Linked DNA regions of Homo sapiens: region 2 is linked to region 1. The links come from fine-mapping of genetic effects on gene expression. A gene starts in region 1. The other region holds a variant in brackets. All regions are shown on one strand. Distances are from middle to middle.

Region 1 (12,827 bases):
CACTATAAGAAATATCAGGGTAGGACAATGAGGACAGTGAACTTTGTCAAACCCCCAGAGAAATAAACATTAACAGTATTCAGAAAGAGTTAGGAAGGGCTTCTTTTCCAGGAGCTTGTTAGACGAGATGAGGAACATTGTGGGGATTTGTTTTTAAAATTCTTAACATTTTGCTTTTATATAGATAAACTTTCTTCACTAGAAAGAGTGATAACTATATTTATTTGCAGACACTCTGTAAATCCAACTTGTAACTATAGTGCCTTGCTTTGGTTTTAAGAAAAATTGTAAAGAGAGTTTGCTCTATAAATCCTTCCTTTTAAAATTTGGAATCTGTGGTGAAATAATACAAATATGGGGTCAGGCGTGGTGGCTCACACCTGTAATCCCAGAACTTTGGGAGGCCGAGGCGGGCGGATCATGAGGTCAGGAGTTCAAAAGCAGCCTGGCCAACATGGTGAAAACCTGTCTCTACTAAAAATACAAAAAATTAGCCAGGGGTGGTGGTAGGCACCTGTAATCCCAGCTACTCGGGAGGCTGAGGCAGGAGAATCGCTTGAACCCAGGAGGCAGAGGTTGCAGTGAGCCAAGACCGCACCACTGTACTCCAGCCTGGGCAACAGAGCAAGACTCCATCTCAAGAAAAATAAACAAAATAAAATAAAATAAAATTTGGAATCTGTGGTGAAATAATACAAATATGGGGTCAGACGTGGTGGCTCACACCTGTAATTCCAACACTTTGGGAGTCTGAGGCAGGAGGATCATTTGAACCTATGAGTTTGAGACCAGCCTGGGAAACATAGTGAGACCCTGTCTCAAAAAAAAAAAAAAAAATCCAAATTTGGTGAAGATAACCCCTCTCAATATTAGCACATAACTGTCTCTAGTTTTAGGTTAAAATAGAACACAATTGAATTTATGCATGCATGTGCAAAATGATGATTGCCCTCTGCGAGATGAGACATTGGAGAGTGAGCCTTTAAAATCATTACCTTTCTCATATCAGCACCACGCCATCATGTTTAATGGTATCTTATCACAGCAGCCACTCAGGTGTCTAATGTTAAACCTTCTTCTTGTCTGGCCTATGGAGGGTGGATCACACAATGATTCGGAATTGTCAGAAATGTTGGATTTTAACCTCTGCCCCAAGGATTACCGCGAATGGACCCCTGGATGAATTCCTTGACTGTCTTGGTCTTGTCCTTGTAAAAAGATCAAGTGAGATGCAGACCACTTCCAGCCCTAAACTCTGATTCTATGTGCTTGTCCCTTCCCTAGGTTTTCTAAGGTGATCAGGGACATAGAGAAGTTTCTGGATGCTTATTTCAAAGATAAGGCCAAAAGCTTTCAGGATGGGGAACAATATCTCTGTTCTTCCCTGTTTGGTCTTTTTAATCTCAGATTCTGATTTTAGATTCTGCATTTTGGCAACAAGTGTTGTGGCTGGAGTTTTTCCTTCAGTGGACAGTTATGGAGTGCCAACATGGCAGTCATTGCTTGACACCAGGGTGAACAAAGCAGGGATTCTGTACTTGAGATGCTCTCAGGCTAACGATGAGGGTTTGTGTCATGGGGGTTTCTAACAGAAATGGCACTAGACAACAAGACAGATTGGCGTATTGTCAGAGAGGCTGCCTGGCTGGTAGCCTGCCCAATGGGCCTAATGGGGTGGCATACGACCTTGGAGACTTTACCACAATCTCGTGTCTGTTGCCAGCCTTCCGGGCTTACAAGCATTCCAGGTTTGAGAAGCTGAGTCATGTTAGAAAGTAGGTTTAGTTAGCACACCAAGAGTGGATCTGCCTTTTCATTCAGTAAACATTTTGGGAGCACCATGTGCCAGAAAATGTGCCAGAACTCTTTCAGCTAAAAATAAATTCAGTTAAAAGGAAATTCAGGCTGGATGCAGTGGATCACGCCTGTAATCCCAGCACTTTGGGAGACCAAGGTAGGTGGATCACTTGAGCCAAGGAGTTTGAGACCAGCCTGGGCAACTTGGTGATACCCCATCTCTTCAAAAAATACACACCAGAAACAAACAAACAACAAACTAGCCAGATGTGATAGTGCATACCTGTAGTCCCAGCTACTTGGGAGGCTAAGATGGGAGGATCACTTGTGCCTGGGGAAGTCAAGGCTGCAGTGAGCAGTGATTGCACCACTGCACTTCAGCTTGGGCAATGGAATGAGACCTTGTTCAAAAAGGCTGGGCACAGTGGCTCAGGCCTGTAATCCCAGCACTTTGGGAGGCAGAAGCAGGAGGACTGCTGGAGGCCAGGAGTTAGAGAGCAACCTAGGCAACATAGAAAGACCCTGTCTCTACAAAAATTTTTTTAACGGAAATTCAACTCAAATTTGTGTGTACCCCCACAAAAAAAGAATTTTTTTTTCTTCATCATCCTGGAAAATCTGGGCATGGGTGGATTCAGGAGTTCAGAAGTTCAAAGATAAGACTGTCTCTCCATGTCCTGGCCCTGCCAACCTCTGCTTGGTTTGATTCTCAGATTCCCTCCTCAGAGCAGCAAGATGACTGCTGTCAACACAAGCCATTCTTATAGCTCATGATCTCAGAGTAAGATGGACCTTCCTTTTCTGAGCAGACATCCATTAAATCTCACGGAGGGATACCAATTGGCTCTTCTGGGGTTGCATATTCATCCTTGAACCAATTACTGTGGCTGGATTGGTCAGACCTGGGTTAGAAGGAAGGATCAGCCCCTTAAACTATACTGAATGAGTTCCCTGCAGAAAGGAGGGGTTCTGCCTTCAGAAGAAGAGGGAAGGGATTCTAGGCAGGAAAACGAAATAATGACAGCTATTCACAGTCATTCACTGTGCTTGGCACAGGGAATATACCAGTAACCAGGACAGAGAATTTCACTGTCTTTAAGGAGCTTACATTCTAGCTGGGGAAATACACAAAAATAAACAAGCAGATGAAATAATTACAAATTATGTTGAAGCAAGGAAATGAAATAGAAAATAATGGTGGGAACATTTTTAAAATTAATATGGGCTGGAAAGACCTCTTTGAGTGGGTAATATTTAAGCTGAGCCCCAGAGGCTAGAAAAGAGCCAGTATGTAAACAGTGGGAAGAAATGGGCTCCACGCAGTGGGAACAGGTGTGAGAAGAGACTGAAATGGGAAAGAGCTTGACACTTTAGAGAAGAGTAGGGAGGCCAGAATGTAGACAGCAAGGGTGGAGTGGCTCAAAGTAGACTAGAGAGGGAAAAAATAACCAGAGTATGGAACACCTTATAATGCAAAGCTTGAGGATTTAAAAAAATGGTTTGGAGTGTTATGATTGGAGGTGATCAAAGGTAAAAGTCAGAAGTTCCACCAGTTCGGAGGCCACTGTAGAATCCAGAGAGATGATGATGGGCCTGGGTGGCCTGCCATGACCTTATCATGATGTCATTATGGTGGGAGTGGGTTGTTATAAAATGAGTCCAGCCCTGGTGCCTCTCTTTCATGTTCAGCCCTCCCACCATGTTATGCTATGCTGCATCAAGAAAGACTCACCAGATGCCACAGCCATGCACTTGGATGCCCCAGCCTCCAGAGCTATGAGAAATAAATTCTTTATAAATTACCCAGTCTCAGGTATTCTATTATAGCAACATAAAATGAACTAAGACAGACTTGGAAAAGAATTCATTCTATGTGATCATTATAATCTTTCCCAATAAGCAGACTCCTTGAGAAGCAAGTCATGTCAGAAAGCTGCCTGTGCCCAGTGCAGTGGCTCATGCCTGTAACCCCAGCACTTTGGGAGGCCAAAGTGGGTGGATCGCTTGAGCTCAGGAGTTTGAGACCATCCTGGGCAACATGGCAAAACCCTGTCTCTACAAAAAAATACCAAAAATTAGCCAGGCGTGGTGGCATGCGCCTGTAGTCCCAGCCACTCAAGAGGCTGAGGTGGGAGAATGGTGTGAGTTCAAGAGGCAGAAGTTGCAGTGAGTCAAGATTGCTCCACTGCACTCCAGCCTGGACGACAGAGCCAGACCCTGTCCCAAATAAAAAAGAAGGAAAGAAAGCTAAACATGAATATTTTGATATACAGTGGCACCACATTCATAGCAAGTGGGCCTAAAAGATAGGCTGTAACAATTGCAGTCTATTGGCTTAGATCCCCTCCTTTCTGCAGTTTTTGAGAAGGCACAGCCTCTATGATGCTCATTCTGTACATTCACAGTGGCCTGAATCCCCCTCTTTCAATTGACATGTTCTTTGGACTTTCGAAGACATTTCATGTAACCAGGGACTACTTTTACTGATTTAAGGGCCATCCTGCCTCTTTAAGGTGGATTTACATAACTCCTCCCTGATTGGTTTAAAGGTTGAGTTAAAACTCTCTGAGAGTAGCTTTATTTCTCCTTCCAAGTTTTGGGGGATATTTCCTGAACTTCCATACAATATTACACACATCTCTATCAAAGTAAGGTTGAAGGAGATTCCGATTCATATACGCACATGCTAGAATGAATCTTCTAGTTCCATTCCAGATAACATTCACAATCCAAAATATTTCTCTTCTAACTTTTCTTAGCATCTATGAGACTAAGTACATACAAGGAATACCCAGTAACGAGCAAAAGGGGTACTTGGGTTTACTAAATATTTTAACAGACAACTTATTCCTCAACACCTCTAGTCCCTTCCCTTGAAAATAAACACATCAGTAAAACTCCACCACTTCTATTCCCCTCTATCACACTGTCACCACCATGAAAATTAGCTGAAAGCACTCCTCAAGGATTGAGAGACGGCCAGGCCACCTATGTTTTTAAAGTCTCTTGGTATAATAAGTGATAAAAAAGAGAGGATGCCAAAAACAGGGTTACAAGAAGTGTGGTATATTTAAAAGATACCACAGTTAACAAATTAATGGACGCACCCACAGAACACAGCACACAGTTGTACTGTTCACAAGATAATTACAGCCCTTTATAAAAAGTAGCTGATAGCATGCTTCAGTAGATAGTGAGCCCTGTAATGAGACACAAGTTGTAGATGAATATATTTTTCTTTTAATCCAGTCAGTGTTTCTTTGTGACTGTGTATAGAACTTCATGTGGAGATAAAGTAAAACATTCAAGTTTGAGACTCTTCTTGAATGTAAGCTTATGTCAAATGTCGCACTGGTGGATCCACCTCCCCCACACCCCCCGCCCCCCGCCCCCGCTCCATTCTGATGGTCGTGCATTTAACTAGAAATTGATGGAAATCAGTGTTAGTAACTGAGGGCCTTAGAATATTATCAGTCTCGGCATCCTCTCCCAGCATGATTAGGGGACAAAAGCCCGTATAGAGATTGTGTCCAGGAACCTCTGGGCACAAGCTCTTTACAGATTGCCTCTGGGGTCTGAGGGGCGCCCTAACTAGATTAGAAACTGACATGTTCTACCCCAGGGCCTCCGCGAACGACAGCAGGCGAGAATCCTTGCTCTGGACACGGGGAACAGGGTCAGCATCTCGTCTCCTATCTCCACCGACCTGTCTCTGGCTTTTCTTAGTCCCCAGATGCGCCCAGAAGGTCCTGGAGAGTGGTGCGTCCCCTTGGCAACCGTACAACGCGCAGGAAGGCGGAGTGAGATGAGGCTGAGTCCGGCCGGGGCGGGGCTGTGTGGGACTAGGGCGGGGCTCGGGGGCTAGACCGGGGCGGGGCTGTGTAGGGCTGGGGCGGGGCTCGGGGCGGGGCTCGGGGCGGGGCTGGGCGCGGGGGGCCCCGGCAGCCCTTATCGTATCGCGCAGAGAGCAAACTGCGCCTGGGCAACCAGTCGGGAGGGTGAGTCCCGCGCGCGACAGAAGCTTCTGGCGCGAATGGAGAACCAAGAGTTTCTAAGTTCATCTGCGCCGTCCGAGGTGACCGATGGGCAGGTCTCAACAGAAATATCCACTTGCTCCGAAGTCTTCCAGAAGCCCATTGTGCTCAGGATTCTCGACACTCACAGAGAGCTTGAGGAGTCCGAGGATCCCGAGAAACACGAGAATCCCGAGGAACCCGAGGAGGTCAGGGAGCAAGACCAGAGAGACGAGTCCGAGGAATGTGATGAGCCTCATGAGTCCTATGAGCCCCACGCTCCCTATGCGCCCCACAAGCCCCGGGACTCCTATGCACCTTACGAACTCCATGGGCCCCATGCAGCCCCCAAACTCCTCAAGGCCCGTGAACCCCGCCAGCTCCGCCACACCCGTGAGCCCCGCAAGTCCCGCGAGGCCAAGGAAACCGAGTTGCTTCCCAGCGCCGCAGTAATGATCTCCCCCTCTCTGATCACCAGAGCCCCGCCACGGCCTCAGCTGTCTTTCCTGGGTGGTAGGTGTTCCCCTTCCCTCGTCCCCTCTCCTGCTTCTCCCTTCCCCTCATTCCCCACGCGCTGAGCACCCACGCCCCATCTAGAACCGGGGGTCCTAAGGTGGAGGTTTGCATGCAAGAGCTTGCCATATTGAAAAGAACTCGTGTCATTTACCTGTTGCTTCGCAGTCATCAGCCCTTGCGTTTCAAGGGACTCAGATGGGAAACTGACACCCTGATAATGAGAGAAGCTGAATCTCTTGTCTTCCACTGCTATCTAATGAGCTATTGTTACCTCCTTTTGAAGCCCTTCTTCATTCGCCTCTACAGTTAGTCATTGCATCCCTCTGGGTTGCACTTTGAATGTTACCCTTATTAGAGCACTTAAGATCTTGTATTTCACCATTCATCTTTCTCTTTAACTAAAGAGAGTGATCCTTGAAGGGAGGATATTTTCGTCAGTGTTTGGCATATGGTCACATGTGGAAACAAAGCATTCATTGAGCAAGTATTCAAAGAGTATGCATCTACAAAGTGCTCACGATATGCTCAGTCCTCACCACCTTCACAAGGTAACAGAGCAGATGGGACTTGGTTATAAACATCCTTGCTCTGACCCCACTCGCTCATTTATGACCCCTCACTAATGACCCAACCCAAAGCAATTATTTGTCCTCATTGGACCGCCAATCTTTTGGGAAACCAATTTTTATCTTATGTTCTCACTGACTGCTCCTTATCCAGCCTCGATTCCATGGTCTGCCATTGCAGTTGCTCCCTTATGTCTTCCACCATTCCATTGGCTCTCTGGTTATCCATCATACTTCTGACAAAACCTCAACCCTGATTAAACCCAGCCGTCCATCTACTCGCTTCCTACACCTCAGCAGTTGACTCTTGCTGTGCAAAATTGCACAGTCATACTGTCTGGTTTATTTCAATTTCATTTCAACTGGTCACTTGGCACTGCCTGGCAAGCTCACTTTATTCCCTTAGTAAGTTGGTTTTCCCAGTCTCTGAAGATGACTAACTGCCTTACTCTCCTCTAAACTTCACACCTTTGACCCCCCCACCCAGCTGAAGACTTTGCCCCATTCTTTATCGAGAAAATAGAAGTGATCAATCATGAAATCCCTTATTTTCTTACAATGGATCTATTGCTTTACCCGCATCTGTACCCATGAATTCTGCCTTTTCTCATATTTCAGGGAAGAATTGTGCCTTTTTTTTTAATGAAAAGCAAAATCCTTCACTTATGCTTTAGATACCACTCTCATTTCCTGAAGAACTTTCTTCCTGCAGTTATCCTCTCTCTTCTACAGCATCAATTTCTCCCTAATTAATCAGTACCATCATACACATATTCTAGAATCTTCCATCTTGAAATAACTCTTGACCCCATGTCATTTTCAGACTCTCCCCTTCCACCAGCATCACCCCCATTTCTCTGTTGTTCTTCATTGCAGAACTTGTCAAAAGAGTTGTCTATACTCACTGACTCAATTTCTTCACCTCTCATTCTCAACACATTTGGTTAGGCTTCTTTCCTCTACTCTCCCAAAACTGCTCTAGTTTACTGCTTTTCTCTCTGCCGCCACTCCTATCATCATGCATGGAGATTTCATATCCACTTGGATGATCCATTTGGCTTCTCAGTTCTCTGATCTCCTCACTTGGAAAGATCTTGTCCTTCACCCCATCGTAGGCACCCACTATCAAAGCCATTGTTAACTGCTCTACCATTTCCAGACTATTTCAAGCACTCTAATCTCTAACCATGTCTTAGCTTTCCAGCTCACTCCTCCATGAACCCCCCTATCAAATTTTCAGCTTAAGGGACTTCAAATCCATTGATCCTATGAACTTTTCATTATATATCACTATCTTATGTCCTGCTGTCTCTCCTCACCTTATATTCCATGGACCAACAATGGAATTACTCCCTTGATTCTCTCTCCCTCTGTCATTCTTGCCTTGTTAAATCGAACCCTTGCCTGCACTTGGAATAACAGATAATGGCAAGAGAAAGGCAAACAACTATGCCAACTATGATAACTGACCTTTAAATCCATGCCCCTGAACTTCAAGTGGGCTCTCAGTGCTGCTTGCCAGTCATACTGTATTTCCACAGTCAATTTATTTTCCAGCTGTCCCAGAAATTATGGTGAGTGCTCTCATTCCTCAACCTTATGCATCCTTTCCTCCTCGCTCTTAGCTGATGATTTCACTTTTTTCTTCACTGAGAATAGAAGAAATTCTGAAAGATCTACATATCTTTCCACCATGAAATCTACCAAAATACCAGCATCTATACATATGTACTCTACATTTTTTCCTGTTAATAATGGATGAAATGTCCTTGCTCTTATTAAAGGCCTTTCCCTCAATCTATATGTTGGATTTCAATCCCATCTAACTTCTTTAAGCTCTTTGCTCCTAAAATTAGCCTCTCTCTCCTGCATCATTGTATTCCTCCTCTGCTGGATCATTCCCATCAGCATACAAACATGTGCAATGGACCGGATGCGGTGCCTCAAATCTGTAATCCCAGCACTTTGAGAGGCCGAGGTGGAAGGATCACTTGAGGCTGGAATTCAAAATCAGCCTGAGCAACATAGTGAGACCTCCTTTCTACAAAAAAAAAAAAAAAATTATTAACCACGCATGGTGGCACATACCTGTAGCCCCAGTTACTGGTAGACTGAGGCAGGAGCATCACCTCAGACTCAGCAGTTTGAGGCAACAGTGAGGTATGATCATGCCACTGTACTCCAGCCTGGGCAGCAGAACAAGACTCTGTCTCAAGAACAAAAACAAAAACTAAAACCAACTAACCAAACAACAACAACGACAACAGCAAAATGCACAATAACTCTTATCTTTAAGAAACCCCAAACCTTCCTTGAACCCCATGTGCCCGTCCAGGTACCATGATTTCTTTGCTCTGCTTTAGAGGAAAAATTTCTCAATTGAATTGCCTGCAAGTCATCATATCCATGTCCTCTTTCCCCCTTTTTCCCCCTTCTCTAGAGAACCACTTACATTTTCATCCCCTCCACTTAGCTGCAGTGGCTTTTGTTGAGGTCACAATGATCGCTGCCTTGTGAAATTCAATGGCTAATTCTTCATCTTCATCTTACTCATTTGACACATTAACCTCTTATTTTCTTAGAAGTCTTCTTTACTTGACTTCTGGGATGCCTCTACCTCTGTTGTCCTACCTCACTGATTGTTCTTTAGTCAGTTTCCTTTGCTGAATCCTCCTCTTCCCAGCCTTTAGGTTGAAGTGACCAATGGCTTAGTCCTCTCAGATTCATTCTTCTAGAACTTTCCTTATTCCCTGGGTGAGGTCATCAGTTCCATGGCCTTAACTATATTCTGGTAACTTCCCAAATTATCTCTAGCCTCAGTTTTTCCCCTAAACTCAAGTTTTATAACCAGTCATTGATTTATCGTCCCCGCTTGAATATCAATTTGGCATGTAAAACATAAGGTGGGCTGGGTGCAGTGGCTTACGCCTGTAATCCCAGCACTTTGGGAGGCTCAGGTGGGTGAATTACCTGAGGTCAGGGGTTCGAGACCAGCCTCGCCAACATGGTGAAACCCCGTCTCTGCTAAAAATACAAAAAAAATAGCTAGGCGTGGTGGCGCATGCCTGTAATCCCAGCTACTCGGGAGGCTAAGGCAGGAGAATCGCTTGAACCTGGGAGGTGGAAGTTGCAGTGAGCCAAGATTGCACCATTGCAATCCAGCCTGCACAACAAGAGTGAAACTCCATCTCAACAACAACAACAAACAACAACAACAACAAAAAAACCATAATGTGCCCACCAATGAAGTCTTCCTGCAGCACCCATATGTGCTCTTCCCTCATTGTTTCCCATTTCAGCAAATGGCACCACCATTTATTTATCCAGGTGCCTAAAAACCTTAGCATCATTCTTGACGCCTGTTTTTCTCTTACACTCAGACTTTAAGCCATTAGCAAATTGTAACTTTGAGCTATATCCTGACTATGGCCATTTCTTAACATTTAAAATGTCATCATCTTTGTAAGCCACTATCATCTCTTGCCTGGTCTAAGGGAGGAGACCACCACGCATATTGTCTTATGCCCAATTTCTGCCTCCAAAGAAAGAAGTAAAAACTAAAAGGCAGAAATGAAATCCACAGGCAGACAGCCCAGCGCCACACCCTGGGCCTGGTCGTTAAAGATCGACCCCTGACCTAATTGGTTATGTTATCTATAGATTACATACATTGTATGGAAAAGCACTGTGAAAATCCCTGTCCTGTTCTGTTCTGTTCTAATTACTGGTGCATGCAGCCCCCAGTGACGTACCCCCTGCTTGCTCAATCGATCATGACCCTCTCATGCAGACCCCCTTAGAGTTGTAAGCCCTTAAGAGGGACAGGAATTGCTCACTCGGGGAGCTCAGTTTTTGAGACATGAGTCTTGCTGATGCTCCCAGCCGAATAAAGCCCTTCCTTCTTTAACTCGGTGTCTGAGGGGTTTTGTCTGTGCCTCGTCCTGCTACAGGTCCACTGCAGTAGCCTCCAGCTGGGTTCTTGTCTTGCACCATCCCCGGTTCATTATACCTACACTGGTCACAGAAGTCCCTTAGAACATAAATTATATGCAGTTCTCTTGCTCTCAACCCTCCAGAATGGGTTCTCACCTCAGGCAGGGTTCTCACCTCTAAGGCAGGGATCCCCAACCTTTTTGGCACCAGGGACGGGTTTCGTGGAAGACAGTTTTTTCAAGGGGTGGGGGGAACTGTTCCACTTCAGATCAATCTATCAATCATTAGTTAGATTCTCATAAGGACCCAGCAAGCTAGATCCCTCACATGCGCACGCGCAGTTCACGATAGGGTTTGTTTCTGTGAGAATGTAATGCCACCACTGATCTGACAGGAGGCGGAGTTGAGGCTGTAATGCCTGCTCCCCTGCCACTCACCTCCTGCTGTGTAGCCTGGCTCCTAACAGGCCACAGACAAAACCAGTCCACAGCCCGGGGGTTGGGAACCCCTGCTCTAAAGTCCTTAGCAGGCCTACAAGGCCCCACTTGATCTGAGCCTGTCACTAACCTCACCTTGAACTTGACCTGATATGTCCATGACATCATGTCCTACTACTCCCCTGTCGGTTTTTGCTCTGCAGGCACATGGGCATCCTTGCTCTGAGCTCAGGATCATTTCACTTGCTTTCTCCTCTGCCAGGGCACTCTTGTTTCAAATAACTTGTCATCTCCTTTTCATGGGGTACCAAAAACAGCATTATTGGCCTGCTCATTTTCTTTGAGACACTTATGGGGCTGCATGATATATCTATTTGTTTACTCTTTTACGTTAAGCTCTTATGGAGGCAGGACCTTTGTCTTTCATCCTTAGTGCCTCAAGCTTGCCTGGAACAAGTCAGGAATTAATTGTTGTTGAATGAAAGATCTCTTCATTTGACCGCTGTGTTACCAAATCCAATGGTTTCTTCTCTATCGTTAGCATTGTCAAAAAGATTCAAAGAGTTAATACCCATAAAGGTCTTAGAACAGATGTGGTACATTGTAAGTGCTCAGTAGATGTTAGCTAGTAGTAGTAGTAGTGTTGTAGTGTTATTATTATTATTACTATTTTGAGATGGAGGCTTGCTGTGTTTCCCAGGCTGGAGTGCAGTGGCATGATCTTGGCTCACTGCAAAGTCCGCCTCCTGGGTTCAAGCGATTCTCCTGTCTCAGCCTCCAGAGTAGCTGGGATTACAAGTATGCACCACCATGCCTGGCTAATTTTTGTATTTTTAGTAGAGACAGGGTTTCACCATGTTGGCCAGGCTGGTCTTGAACTCCTGACCTTAGGTGATCCGCTCACCTCAGCCTCACAAAGTGCTGGGATTACAGGCATGAGCCACCACGCCCGGCCAATGTATTAGTATTATTATCTCATTAAACCTCTAGGCAGCATCTAACACAACTGGCTACTCCCTTCTCGTGGCCTCTGTGACACCATAGTCTCCTAGTTTAGCATCCACCTGACTGTTTCTCCTTCTCAGGCTCCTTTGCTGAACCCTCTCTGAATTCTTGAATTCTTGCGGGCTCTGTCCTGACTCCTTTAAAAAATATTTACACTTTTACCCCTAGGTGGTCATAACCACACTCACTCAAGAGTTTAGCATTTCTATGCTGCTGCCTTCTAAATTTTTATATTCTCTCTCTTCTCTGAGTCTGACACTTACATATTCAACTGCCTCCTGGACATCTCCATTTGCATGTATCATATGTTTCTCAAATTGACTATACTTTTTCAAACAGAAGTCTTGATTTCCCTTCCAGCCTTGTTCTTCCTTCAGTCTCCCCCATCTAAGAAAATATCTTGAAGTTACTCAAGCTAAAGAAAATCTATTCTTCTTGCCTCACCTTCAAGTACAATGCACCCAATGAAAGTTCTATCAGTTTTATCTCAAGAATATTTCCTGAATTTATTAATTTCTGCTGCTAACACACTCACTCCAGTTGTCCAGTTGTGGTCACTT
Region 2 (12,827 bases), 72 kb after region 1:
CCCAGAGGTCAAATCATACTTTGTAATCTTGAACTAAATAGTGTTTATTACTTGATGCTTATAAGTACTGTTTTATTTTTCTCCCCTAGATGCAAACCAAGATTTCACTTTCTACCCTGAGTGCGATTGCAACTCCAAGAATTATAGAGCTTGCCCACCCAAGGATCAAGTTAGAGGGTCTGTGCTATGAAAGACAAAGAAGTGAACTGCCCATCCGTCCTGTAAGCCATCGCTACCTTGGTATCCTTCAGCTCACTTTTTGGCTGCTCTTAGGATGCTATTTTGCCTCTACAGGGCATAGCCCAAAGTCACTGGAAAAGAGAATCTGGGAAGAGTGGTCTGTGGCAGGAAGAGAGACTAGCTAGATGATAGGGAGAGAGGGAAAAGAGTAGAACACCAAAAGCATGGGCTTTGGAGTTCAGTTTTGGAGCTGGATTCAAATTGCAGCCTCGTCACTACAAGCTCTATGATGTTGGGACAAACTTCCTGAGCTTTATTCATTCAACAAATATTTGGATGCCTACTGTGAGCCAGGCAGTGATCCCAGTGAACAACTTGGAGCTCTATGCTAATCAGGGGAGACAAACAATAAATTAGTCAATAGATAATGTCAGATCATGCTAAATGCTATCAGGAAAATAACATAGAAAATGAATGACTGTGGGGCAGGGTGGTAAGATACTTTGCCTATGGTAGTCAGTGAAGGCCTCTCTAAGGAAGGAATATTTGAGCTGAAACCTGACTGGTAAGAAGGAGTCAACCAAGTGAAGATCTAGAAGAATATTCCAGTAAAGGGAAGAGTACATGCCAAAGTACTAAAGTTGGGATGCACTTGAAATTGGGTGGAGCAAGGTGAGCTAGAGAATTCTGGAGATAGCCGCCCTCACCGAGTGGTCTGCTGTGTTGAGCAATAACAGGTAAGTCATGGCACTCAGCACAGAGCCTGGAACCTTTGATGGCTTCCCTCCCTCTTCATCCTTGACATTCCCCACCATCAATTGCAGTGCCAACTTGGTGCCCTATTCCAATTGGGTTTTCAAAAAATATCTAATGATCATGTTGCCAAAAGAGGTGGGGCCAGTTTCACCCTGTTTCAAGGAAACTGAGGATTTAATATGGAATTCTATTAGGAAAGAAAACCATTCTGGGAATCAGAAACTCTTGGACGAGTGTCTTAAGTTTACTAAAGTGACTTGTGACTGTCAGGCAAATGACTTTATTCTCAGTTTTTTGGTATGTAAAAATGGAAGTAATGGAGATCTTTCCTTAATTGCTAGGATTGTTTGGGTTTATTTTATTTTTTAAGGTCTTTAGAAAAAAGGAATACCACTGCAGAAAATCATAGTCTTAGAACCCGAAACAAATCTGCACCAGTGCAATGCAGAACACTTTCAAGACTACTGAGAGTGGTGTTAGCTGTCCTCCCTAATTCTTTTGTTTGTTTTTTTTGTGATGGTGGTGTTTTTTTTTTAGACAGTGTCTTGCTCTGTCACCCAGGCTGGAGTGCAGCAGCACGATCATGGCTCACTGCAGCCTCAACCTTCTGGGCTTAAGTGATCCTCCCACCTCAGCCACCTGAGCAGCTGGGACTACAGGCATGTGCCACCACCCCCAAGTTTTAAAAATTTTTTTGTAGAGACAGGGGTCTCACTATATTGCCCAGGCTGGTCTGGAACCCCTGAGCTCAAGTGATCCTTGTGCCTCAACCTCCCAAAGAGCTAGGATTATAGGTGTGAGCCATCATGGCTAGCCCCACTCTAATTCTTTTGAGTGAGCATTTAAAAGAGAGTAGTAGATGTCATCCTAGGTATTTTACCAATAAAGCAACATAACAGAAAGGCAATCTGGTAGATGTGGTTTTTAAAGTAAGACCAAAAGGAGTCAGTCAGTATATGTTTATTCAGCACCAACTATGTGCCAGAGCCAATTTTAGCTTTTAGCAAACAAGTAATTCCCCTTGAGCAGCTTATATTCTAATGGGGAGAAATACAGTCAATAAACAAAGTGATAAATGAGCTAATGTGGGTGTTGACATGTGCTATGAAGAAGATTAAGTAAGTCCTGCAGAAGAGGGTAATTAGGCTGACTTGTCTTGCCTGGCCAGGGAAGATCTCCTTGAAGAATGTGATGTATGAGTCTAGAGACTTGAGTGAGGGAGAGGCAGCCAAGCCAAGGCTAAGGGAAGTTTTTTTTTCAAGGAGAACTAGCAAGTGCAAAGGTCCTGAGAGGGAAGGACCTGGTCCAGGGAGTCTGTGTGGCTGGAATCACAGGGATCAAGGAGAGGAGGGGAGGAAGATGAGGTCAGAGGGGTGGGGCAGAAGGCAGATCATGTAGGGCCTTGTAGGCCACAGAAGGAGCCTAAGTGATAGGGTTTGGCTCTGTGTCCCCACTCAAATCTCACCTTGAATTGTAATAATCCCACATGTCAAGGGAAGGACCAGGTGGAAATAATTGACTCATGGGGGTGGTTTCCCCCATGCTGTTCTCCTGATAGTTAGTGAGTTCTCATGAGATCTGATGGTTTTATAAGGGGCTTCCCCCTTCGCTGGGCTCTTACGGTCTCTTGCCCCCGACCATGTAAGATGTGCCTTTGCTCCTCCTTTGCCTTCCGCCATGATGGTGAGGCCTCCCCAGCCACTCCCCAATGGAACTGTGATTCCATTAAACCTCTTTTTCTTAATAAATTACCCCATCTCAGATATTTCTTCATAGCAGTGTGAAAACAGAATACACTAAGTGTGTGTATATATGTATATATACACAATAATATGTAATAATTATTATTATTTTGAAACAGGATCTCACTCTCTCACCCAGGCTGGAGAGCAGTGGTGCTATCACAGCTTATTGTAGCCTCAACCTCCCTGGGCTCAAGTGATCCTCCCACTTCAGCCTCCTGAGCAGCTGTGACCACAGACATGCACCACCATGCCCAGCTAATTTTTTTTGCTCAAAATTATTATTTTTTACTTTATTTTTTAATTTTTTTCACTTTAAGTTCCAGGATACATGTGCGGAATGTGCAGATTTGTTACATAGGTATACATGTGCCATGGTGGTTTGCTGCACCTATCAACCTGTCACCTAGGTTTTAAACCCCACATGCATTAGCTATTTGTCCTAATGCTCTCCCTCCCCTTACACACCCCCTGCCGCTGACAGGCCCTGGTGTGTGTTGTTCCCCTCTCTGTGTCCATGCATTCTCATTGTTCAACTCCTTCTTATGAGTGAGAACATGAAGTGTTTGGTTTTCTGTTCCTGTGTTAGTTTGCTGAGGATGATGGCTTCCAGCTCCATCCATATCCTTGCAAAAGATATGATCTCATTCTTTTTTATGGCTGCATAGTATTCCATGGTGTGTATGTACCACATTTTCTTTATCCAGTCTATCATTGATGAGCATTTGGATTGGTTCCAGGTATTTGCTATTGTGAATAGTGCTGCAGACACTTCTCAAAAGAAGACATTTATGTGGCCAACAAACATATGAAAATAAAACTCAACATCACTGATCATTAGAGAGATGCAAATCAAAACCACAATGAGATACCATCTCACACCATTCAGAAAGGTGATTATTAAAAAGTCAGGAAACAACAGATGCTGGCAAGGCTGTGGAGAAATAGGAATGCTTTTACACTGTTGGTGGGAATGTAAACCAGCTAATTTTTGTTTTTCTTTGCTTTCTTTTTTTTTTTTTTTTTTTTTTTTTTTTGTAGAGATGAGGTTTTGCCATTTTGTCCAGGCTAGTCTTGAACTCCTGGGCTCAAATGATCTGCTCACCTCAGCCTCCCAAAGTGCTGGGACTGATTACAGGCACAAGCCATTGTGCTTGGCTGAGCCTAAGTATTATTTTTAGCAAAATGGGAAACAATAGGATGGGTTTATTTATTTATTTATTTGAGACAGAGTCTCACTCTGTTGCCAGGCTGGAGTGCTGTAGTGTGATCTTGGCTCACTGCAACCTCCGACTCCCTGGTTCAGGCGATTCTTCTGCCTCAGCCTCCTGAGTAGCTGGGATTACAGGCACGGGCCACCAAGCCCAGCTAATTTTTGTATTTTTAGTACAGACGGGGTTTCACCGTGTTAGTCAGGCTGGTCTCAGACTCCTGACTTCATGATCCACCCGCCTTGGCCTCCCAAAGTGATAGGATTACAGGTAGCAACCAACGCATCCAGCCCAGCATGGGTTTAAAGCCTGGTAGCGATATGATCTGATTTGGGCTTTAGAAAGTACTTAGCTCATGAAGCTGTTGTGATGATTAAGTGGGAATGATTTAGGTAAAGCTTAGAACACTGTCTGGCTCACAGAACACACTCATTATATGTTCATTCTCTCCCTCAGTAACTGTCATGGAAGGCTGCATTGTACAGGAGCAAGGATGGAAGCAGAGAGACCAGTTACGAGTCTGTTGCAGTAATCCAGAAAAGAAATGATTGTGACTTAAGTAGGGATATAGCTATAGACATAGAGAAATGTAAAATTTGGGATATATTTTTGTGTCTCTTTGTTTCCACTATAGGTACCTCCTGCTGCCATGATAGCTAAACCTAGCCCCCGAACAATAGCTCTAGCGAAGTCCAAGTCTGTTCATCAAGATTATCTACCTGACCGTGATGCCCATTGGCCAGTATCTTATGCTACTACTCATTCCAAAGCATCACCTAGGATTCAGGAACTAGCTAATCCAAATAAGAGGTATGTCAATTTCAGGCTAAAGTGGGACAGGAAAGGCTGGGGTTCTGGGGAGAGGGAGAAAGTTGACCTAATAAGGCAAATGAAAAGAGTTGTAGAAATATGAAAAGAACTTCCAAAACATCTTACTTAACGAATTACATTTATTGTGATACATCTATGGTCTTCTTACCCTAAATATAAGGCTACTGTTAAAAGGTTAGTGGACTAGGTATTGCAACTTAGATCTAGGATGGGGCAGGTGGATCACACCTGTAATCCTAGTGCTTTGGGAGACCAAGGTGGGAGGATAGCTTGAGGCTAGGAGTTGGAGACCACCCTGGGGAACATAGTGAGACCCTGTCTCTACAAAAAATTCTTTAAAAATATTGGCCAGGCACGGTGGCTCATACTAGTAATCCCAACACTTTGGGAGGCAGAGGTGGGAAGATCGCTTGAGCCCAGGAGTTTGACATCAGCCTAGGCAACAAAGTGAGACCCCCATCTCTTCAAAAAAATACCAAAAATTAGCCAGGTGTGGTGGCATGTGCCTGTAGTTCTAGCAACTTGGGAGGCTGAGGCAGGAAGTCATTGCTTGAGCCCAGGAGTTTGAAGTTACAGTGAGCTATGATCTGCACTCCAGCCCAGGCAGCAGAGTAAGACCTTGGCTCTAAGAAAGAGAAAGGAAAAAGGAAAAAGAAACTTAAGATCTAGGAGACAGTCTGATAAGTATGTGTATGGAATTATTTATCTAACATATATTATTAAGTGAAACAGATTCTAGAACACAGCATGTAATATGTTGCAATTTGTGTAAGAAAAAAAGACATGGGCCATATATTTGTTTGCATATGCCTGTAGTATCTCAGAAGGGTATACAAGAAGCTAGTAACAATGGTTGCCTTTGGGGGCCTAGGGAATTGGGATAGGAGGAAGACTTATTTTTCAATAAATAGGCTTTTGTATTTTTCCAATGTTTTGCATCATGTACGTGTATGGCCTAATTCAAATAGATAAGAATATATAATTAACAAAGAAAAACATTGCCTCTCATTTCTGTTTATTTTTTGGAGGCCTCTTAACTTGCCCGAGCCTCAATTAATTTTGTTACCTTGACGGATAACATCTGATCCCTCTTTTAAAGCATCAATAGCAAAACCTAGGAGAGGCAGAAAAAGTTGTGGAAGTCTTGAGCTCAGGGAAAAGGAAATATGCTAGTCTTATATAATGACATGTTTAAAATGCTGTAATGTGTTTATCCTTTAAAAAAAATAAATTTGCCATCAGATGAAATGAAGCTCATTCTCTGTTCATTAAAGAGAAGAGGCTGGATGCGTTGGCTCACACCTGTAATCCCAGCAGTTTGGGAGGCCAAAGCAGACAGATCACTTGAGCCCAGGAGTTTGAGACCAGACTGGGCAACATGGTGAAACCCCGTCTGTACTAAAAATACAAAAAAGTTTGCTGGGCATAGTGGTGCACGTCTGTAGTCCCAGCTATTTGAGAGGCCGAGGTAGGAGAATCACTTGAGCCTGGGAGGAGGAGGTTGCAGTGAGCAGAGATCGCACCACTGCACTCCAGCCTGGGTGACAGAGTGAAACCCTGTCTCAAAAAAATAAAACAATAAAATAAAAAGTAAAAGAGAAGAATATGATCAAGTGCATTATCAAGGTTTTTATCCTGGTGACAAAATTATTATTTGGTGGTAAGGTGCTGAGAGTGGCCAACTTCAAAAATTTTATTTTCTTAAGTCTACCAGAGAATACTCTGGCTTGTTTTAACATTGACAAATTATGTTATGGTAAATGATACATAGGGGATACAAACTCAGGTCTGTCTGATTCCAAAACTCAAGTTCAAGACTAAGCAACTTCCTGAATTTACTTTCTGGGGAAAGAGAAAAGGTTTTGGAATCTGAGAGACATATAAATCTGGATTTGTCTGTAAATTCATTCATTTAACTTCATTTAACTGAGTCTTGATTTCCTTATCTGTATAGTGGAGGTCATGAAAATAAAATGGGATAATATCATAGTACATAACATACAGTGGATGCTTGAGAAACATTAGCTACCTTCTCTGTTCATCTTATTTCAGGTTGATTTCTTTTTCCCCTATTTCAGGGCTCCTGTGCGTATTGTGTATTATGATCCAGATGTCTTTAAAACCAAGCCAGCTGCTTTGAAAGCACAGTGTTCTCAAAGGATC[T/C]GGGAGTTGTCACAACCTCTTACACGTTAAATACAGAAAGCCACAACAGTCAGACCCTGGTTATGTATCTAGAACACATATTAGATGACTTAGTTCCCTGTTGCGGTACTGTCAGTTTACATTCACCCCTTGCTTCCCCTCCCACAAAATGAGACCTTTAGGGAAAACCACCATGATCATTAAATAGCAGTTGTTGCTGTTAACCTGTCGCTGAATCTTTAGCAGATTTGAGGACTCCAGCATGCAATAAATGAGAAAATGAGAGACTGCCTCATTATCCTTACTGTTTCCTCACAAGCATCTTGGCTGCCTCATTGCTGTAGCTGACCTGAAGAAACACTCTTCCTTATATTTGTGGGTTTTGCTTTTCCTTTCCCAGTGAGTTCCATGTTCCCCAGTAACTGATCCTACCTCAGTCCCTTCTCCAGTAAGTCCTGGGAAATGAAATCATTCTTTGTGTTATTTCAGCATCCCCTTATTACTTAGAAAAAACACTGAAAAAGTGAAGCTCTTTTGGAAAAATTGAAATACTTTTTATAGTCTATAAATACAATTTATAATTGAAATTTAGGGAACAGGTTACCTTAATGATGATGTCACCAATCTCTGTTCCTTTACTCATGCCAGAGTCACTTACCATGAATGAGAGAAAAAGCTGTTTGGTAAGCATTAAAATTCTCTGTAAAATTGCATCTGCCCAGAATTTTATTCTCTCTATAGATCAGTATTTTACAAATTAAACTAACTTTTATGGGGCATATCTAGATTTGCATGAAAATGAACTTACTTGAAAGCCAATTTTACAGATGAATGAGTTCTACCTTTAACGTCTTTGTGTTACAGAGGGGTAATACCACATAGCAGTTTTGAACTTGAGTTTTGGAATCAGATAGAACCTGAAGTTGTCTCTGTCATGGATTATTTACCAGGTATGTGATCTTAAACAAATTTCCTAACTCCCTGTGCTGCAGTTTCTTTATGTAGAAAATGGGTTCCTGCAGCATTCTTGTAAAGATTAGATGATAAAATGTATATAATAAAGTATATATTTGAAACAAAAATTTTTATTTAGAAATTTAGCTGTGGCTAGGCACAGTGGCTCATGCCTGTAATCCTAGCACTTTGGGAGGCCGAGGCAGATGGATCACGAGGTCAGGGGTTCAAGACCAGCCTGACCAACATGGTGAAACCCCGTCTCTACTAAAAATACAAAAATTAGCCTGGTGTGGTGGTACACACCTGTAATCCCAGCTACTCAGGAGGCTGAGGCAGGAGAATCACATGAACCCAGGAGGCAGAGGTTGCCATGAGCCGAGATTGCACCACTGCACTCCAGCCTGGGGTGATACAGCAAGACTCCATCTCAAAAAAAAAAAGAAAAGAAAAGAAAAGAAATTTAGCTGTGTTTCACATGTTTAAAGCAGCACAATTCACAATTGCAAAAATATGGAACCAACCTAAATGCCCATCAACCAACAAGTGGATAAAGAGAGTGTGGTATATGTACACCATGGAATACTACTCAGTCGTAAAACAAAACAAAATAATGGCATTTGCAGCAACTTGGATGGAGTTGGAGGCCATTATTCTAAGTGAAGTAACTCAGGAATGGAAAAACCAAACATTGTATATTCTCACTTATAAGTGGGAGCTAAGCTGTGAGGATGCAAAGGCGTAAGAATGATACAATGGACTTTGGGGACTCAGAGGGAAGGCTGGTAGGGGGGTGAGGAATAAAAGATTACATAATGGGTACAGTGTACACTGCTTGGGTGATGAGTGCACCAAAATCTCAGAAATCACCACTAAATAACTTATCTATGTAACCAAAAACTACCTGTACCCCCAAAGCTATTGAAATTAAAAATAAGAAATTTACCTGTGCTAGCTTTCTAAGGGTACAGTGGCATAATTCATATCAGTGGGGAAAATATGCCTTGATTCTTACATTAAATGAATGTCTGTTGAGTGTCTTTGCTTTGCCAGGCCCTGTGCTTGGCACTGGAGATAACACAGTGAACCAAACAGATATGGGTTCTGCTCTCACGGACTCTTTAGCTTATTGGGAGAGATGATTTCATTAGAATATTCACCAATAAATGTAAAATTACAACACTAGCAAGTACTATGAAATAGTGTTATGAAATAACAGAATAGAGAACTTTGATCCCATGGGAAAGTGAGAGAAGGCTTCTCTAATGAAGGAACAACTGGGTTGGATGCTGATGAAATGCCTAACCTTGTTTTTACTTCAACTCATTACTTTGAATTTTGTCCTGCTTGTCTCTTTAAATCACCTAGCCTTGCTTTTCATGTAAATAAGACTCTCTAGCTAGGAAAGCTGGGCAAACTCCAATTGGCCCCTTAATTTACAAGACACTAGGGCTCCTCACCCAACCCCCTTTCGTGAGGAGTTGGCCTGGGTAAACAGATCCTCAGCATTTCAAAGGAGCCCAATTAACTGATAAGGTACCAACACCAACAACGTATGAAGTTCCCAGGAATTTTCTCCAAGAGATAACAACATAAAACCTTGAGTTCGTGTCCGGCATAAACCCTATATCTAATTATAATAAAAGATTTAGAACCTTGCACCTGGTACCGTTGCTCTTCTTGTAACCATTTGTCTTTTAAGTTGTTTATCACTCTGTAACCATTTTGATTCTTTTGATTCTTGCATGTTTTTACTTCTGTAGAATTATTACATTTGAGTCCCCCTCCCCTTCCTAAACCTAGGTATAAAAGTTAATCAAGCCCTTTCCTCGGGGCCGAGAGAATTTTGAGCATTAGCCGTCTCTTTGGCCGCCGGCTTAATAAAGGACTCTTAATTCGTCTCAAAGTGTGACGTTTTCTTAACTCACCTGGGTACAACACTGAAAACTGAGTAGGACTAACTAACCAAAGAGGATACAGGAAGACATTCCAAGTAGTGGGAACATATGTTAAGTGGACAGTTGTTGATTTTTGGATCACTCTGAATTCATTCTTCCTCCTTCTGATAAGAACTGCGCATTTGCTCTTGGAGAATTACTTTCTCCTCATTGTTTAAAGCTTTATGGGGATTTTTATTCAAGGTTTCCTAGCCGAGGTATGGATATGTAACCCAAGTCAGCCACACCCATTGAACTGTCTTCTGGGACTGTGGATCTTAAGCATAGTGAAGCAAGGGTGATGGAGCTGATATTTCCCATATAGGTGCCCTGATGAGACTTCATTTTTCTCCTACTACCTGTGTCCCTGGAGCTGTTCTGACTCCTACCCTGGTGCTCCGGCTATTCCTCTGATGCCGGAACTGCCTTCCAGTAAATCCCCTGAGGCAGATGGAAGGATGCATCAGGGACTGAAAGATTGCCAGTGTGGCTCAAACAGAAAGAAATAGGAGGTTGTGTGAAGCAAGAGGAGGCTGAAGGATGGGAGCCAGACCAGACCACGTAGGGCACTGGAGGACAGGTTAAGGATTTTAGTCTTCATCCTAAAACCAAAGGGAAGCTATTGAAGTAATTTAAGCATGGGGTGATGTGATCAGAGTTGGCTTTTGAAGTAATAGTTCTGACAAATAAATTGGGAAGGGGGCAGTGGAGGTGGGTAGGCCAAGTTAGGAGGTTATTTAGTACGTCATTTTAAAGGTGAAAATAGTTTGTTGGTACCATGGTGGAGACAGTAAGAAGTGACAGGCTCAAGAGCGATTTGAGAAGGTGGATTTATGGGATTTGATGATGGGTTATATATGGGGAGTGGGAGAGGAAAGAATTCAAGATAACTTCTGGATTTCTAGGTTATGAAACAGGATAGAGAGTGCTCTGGTTTGAATGTTTGTGTCCTTCCAAAATTCATGTTGAAACTGAATCCTCAATGCAATAGTATTCAGAGGTGGGGCTTTCAGGAGGTGATTGGGTCTGAAGGACTCTGCTCTAATAAATTGGATTAGTGCCCTTGTAAAAGGGCTTGAGGGAGTGAGTTCATCCCTTTTCTCTTTTTGCCATGTAAGGATGCAGTAAGAAGGTGCCGTCTTGGAAGCAAAGAACAAGCCCTTACCAGATACCGAATCTATTGGCACCTTGATCTTAGACTTCCCAGCCTCAGCTGTGAGAAATAAATTTCTGTTCTTTATAAATTAGCCAGTGTTTGGTGTTTTGTTATAGTAGCCCAAAAAATTGAGGCAGAAAATTAGTACCAGGAGTGGAGTACTGTGTAACAAATACCTAAAAATGTAAAAACAGCTTTGGAACTGGTAATGGACAGAGACTGGAACAGTTCAGAGGAGCAGGCTAGAAAAAGCCTGTGTTGCCATGAATGGAGCATTAAGGGCGATTTCTGGTGAGAACTCAGAAGAGTTGTAGAGAAACCTTCAATCTTCTTAGAGATTACTTAAGTGGTCATGAACCAGACAGTTGGCAGAAATATGGACAGTAACCTGGGCATGGTGGCTCCCGGCTGTAATCCCAGCACTTTGAGGGACTGAGGTGGGAGGATAGCTTGAGCCCAGGAGTCCAAGACCAGCCTGGGCAACATAGGGACACCCCATTTTTATTTAAAAAAATGTTTTTTAAAAAACTAGCCAAGCATGGTGGTGCTTGCCTGTAGTCCAAGCTACTCAGAGGCTAAGGTAGAATTACTTGAGCCTGGGAAGTTGAGGTTGCAGTGAGCCATGATTGTGCCACTGCATTCTAACCTAAGCAACAGAGTGAGACCCTGTCTCAAGAAAAAAAAAAAAAAAAAAGAAAGAAAGAAAAGAAATATGGACAGTAAAGGCCATTTTAGTGAAGTGTCAGATGGAAATGAGGAACAAGATAGTGGAAACTACAGAAGTAAGTTAATAAGTGACAAAAAGAAAAAAAAGAACCTTGGTTACATTGTATTCATATGATATTTGCAGGAGAAGTCTCTAAGCAAAGTGTTGAAGGAGCTGCTTGGCTTCCCTTGACTGCTTGTAATAAAATGTGAGAAGTGAGAATTGAATTAAAGATGGAATTTATAATTAAAAGAGAGGCAGAACTTAAAGATTTGGAAAAGTCTCAGCCTTGTCAAGTTGTAAAGGATAAGAAGCATGGTTGAGAGAGAACACCAAGAGTGTGACCAAGAGAATGTTTGGTAAGGCGATTAGTATGGCTAGAAGGAAGTCAGATGCTATTAATCAAGACAATGGAAGAATGACCCCTAAGGTATTTTGGAGATCTTCAAGGCTGCCACTCCCATCACAAGCCCAGAGTGCCAGGCCCTTGAGGACAGAATGATTTCAAAGCAGGAGCACAGGGCATCTGTGGGACCTTGGGGCCCACTTCCTAGTATTGCCTCACATTTCTGCTCCACAAATTCTGGTGCAGTGCCCCTCAGCCACCCCAGGTATGGCTTCAGTGGGCCCAGGTACAATATAGTTGGCAGAGAGTCCCCACTAAGACAGTGTCTAATGGAGCCATGAGAATAGGGCCACCCTTGTGACCCCAGGTTGGTAGAGCCACCAACATGCAACATCAACCTGGGAGAGCCACAGTCACATGACTCCAAACCCTGCTGACCATGGGTTGTGCCCAGCAAAGCCAAGGGGGTGAGCCCACCTGGGTGAACCTTAGTGTGTTCAGAAGATGGGACATGGAGTCAAAGAAGATCATTCTCAAGCCTTAATATTTAATGTTTGCCTTGTTGGGTTTTGGACTTACTTGAGACCTGTTACTCTTTTCTTTCCTACCTCTCCCTTTTGGAATGAGAATGTATATCCTATGCTGATATCACTATTGTCTTTTTTTCTTTCTTTCTTTCTTTTTTTTTTTTTTTTTGAGACAGAGTCTTGCTCTGTCACCCGGACTGGAGTGCAGTGGCGTGATCTTGGCTCACTGCAACCTCTGCCTCCCGGGTTCAAGTGTTTCTCTGCCCCCCGAGTAGCTGGGATTACAGGTACCCACCATCACGCCAGACTAATTTTTGTATTTTTAGTAGAGGCAGGGTT

Evidence for each region. PIP is the estimated chance that this variant, and not a neighbour inherited with it, causes the effect.
Region 2: its variant is the best candidate, but not a certain one, in a credible set for the expression of SPMAP2L in testis (GTEx, PIP 0.52).

What each region holds. Positions count from the first base shown.
Region 1 is chr4:56,524,847-56,537,673 of GRCh38, forward strand. SPMAP2L (sperm microtubule associated protein 2 like) reads left to right here and starts at 5,760. Exons shown (of 9, transcript NM_001256475.2): 1 at 5,760-6,323. The coding sequence starts at 5,831. LOC105377665 (a long non-coding RNA gene) reads right to left here and starts at 5,640. Exons shown (of 4, transcript XR_941077.1): 1 at 5,504-5,640; 2 at 3,530-3,571; 3 at 996-1,088. RefSeq lists an enhancer at 6,234-6,767.
Region 2 is chr4:56,596,411-56,609,237 of GRCh38, forward strand. SPMAP2L (sperm microtubule associated protein 2 like) reads left to right here. Exons shown (of 9, transcript NM_001256475.2): 7 at 90-221; 8 at 4,524-4,699; 9 at 6,799-7,097. The coding sequence ends at 6,913. Among named protein-coding and RNA genes, the nearest start is that of SPMAP2L, 72 kb to the left of the region's middle. RefSeq lists an enhancer at 9,810-10,311. The variant T/C (reference allele first, on the strand shown) is at 6,884.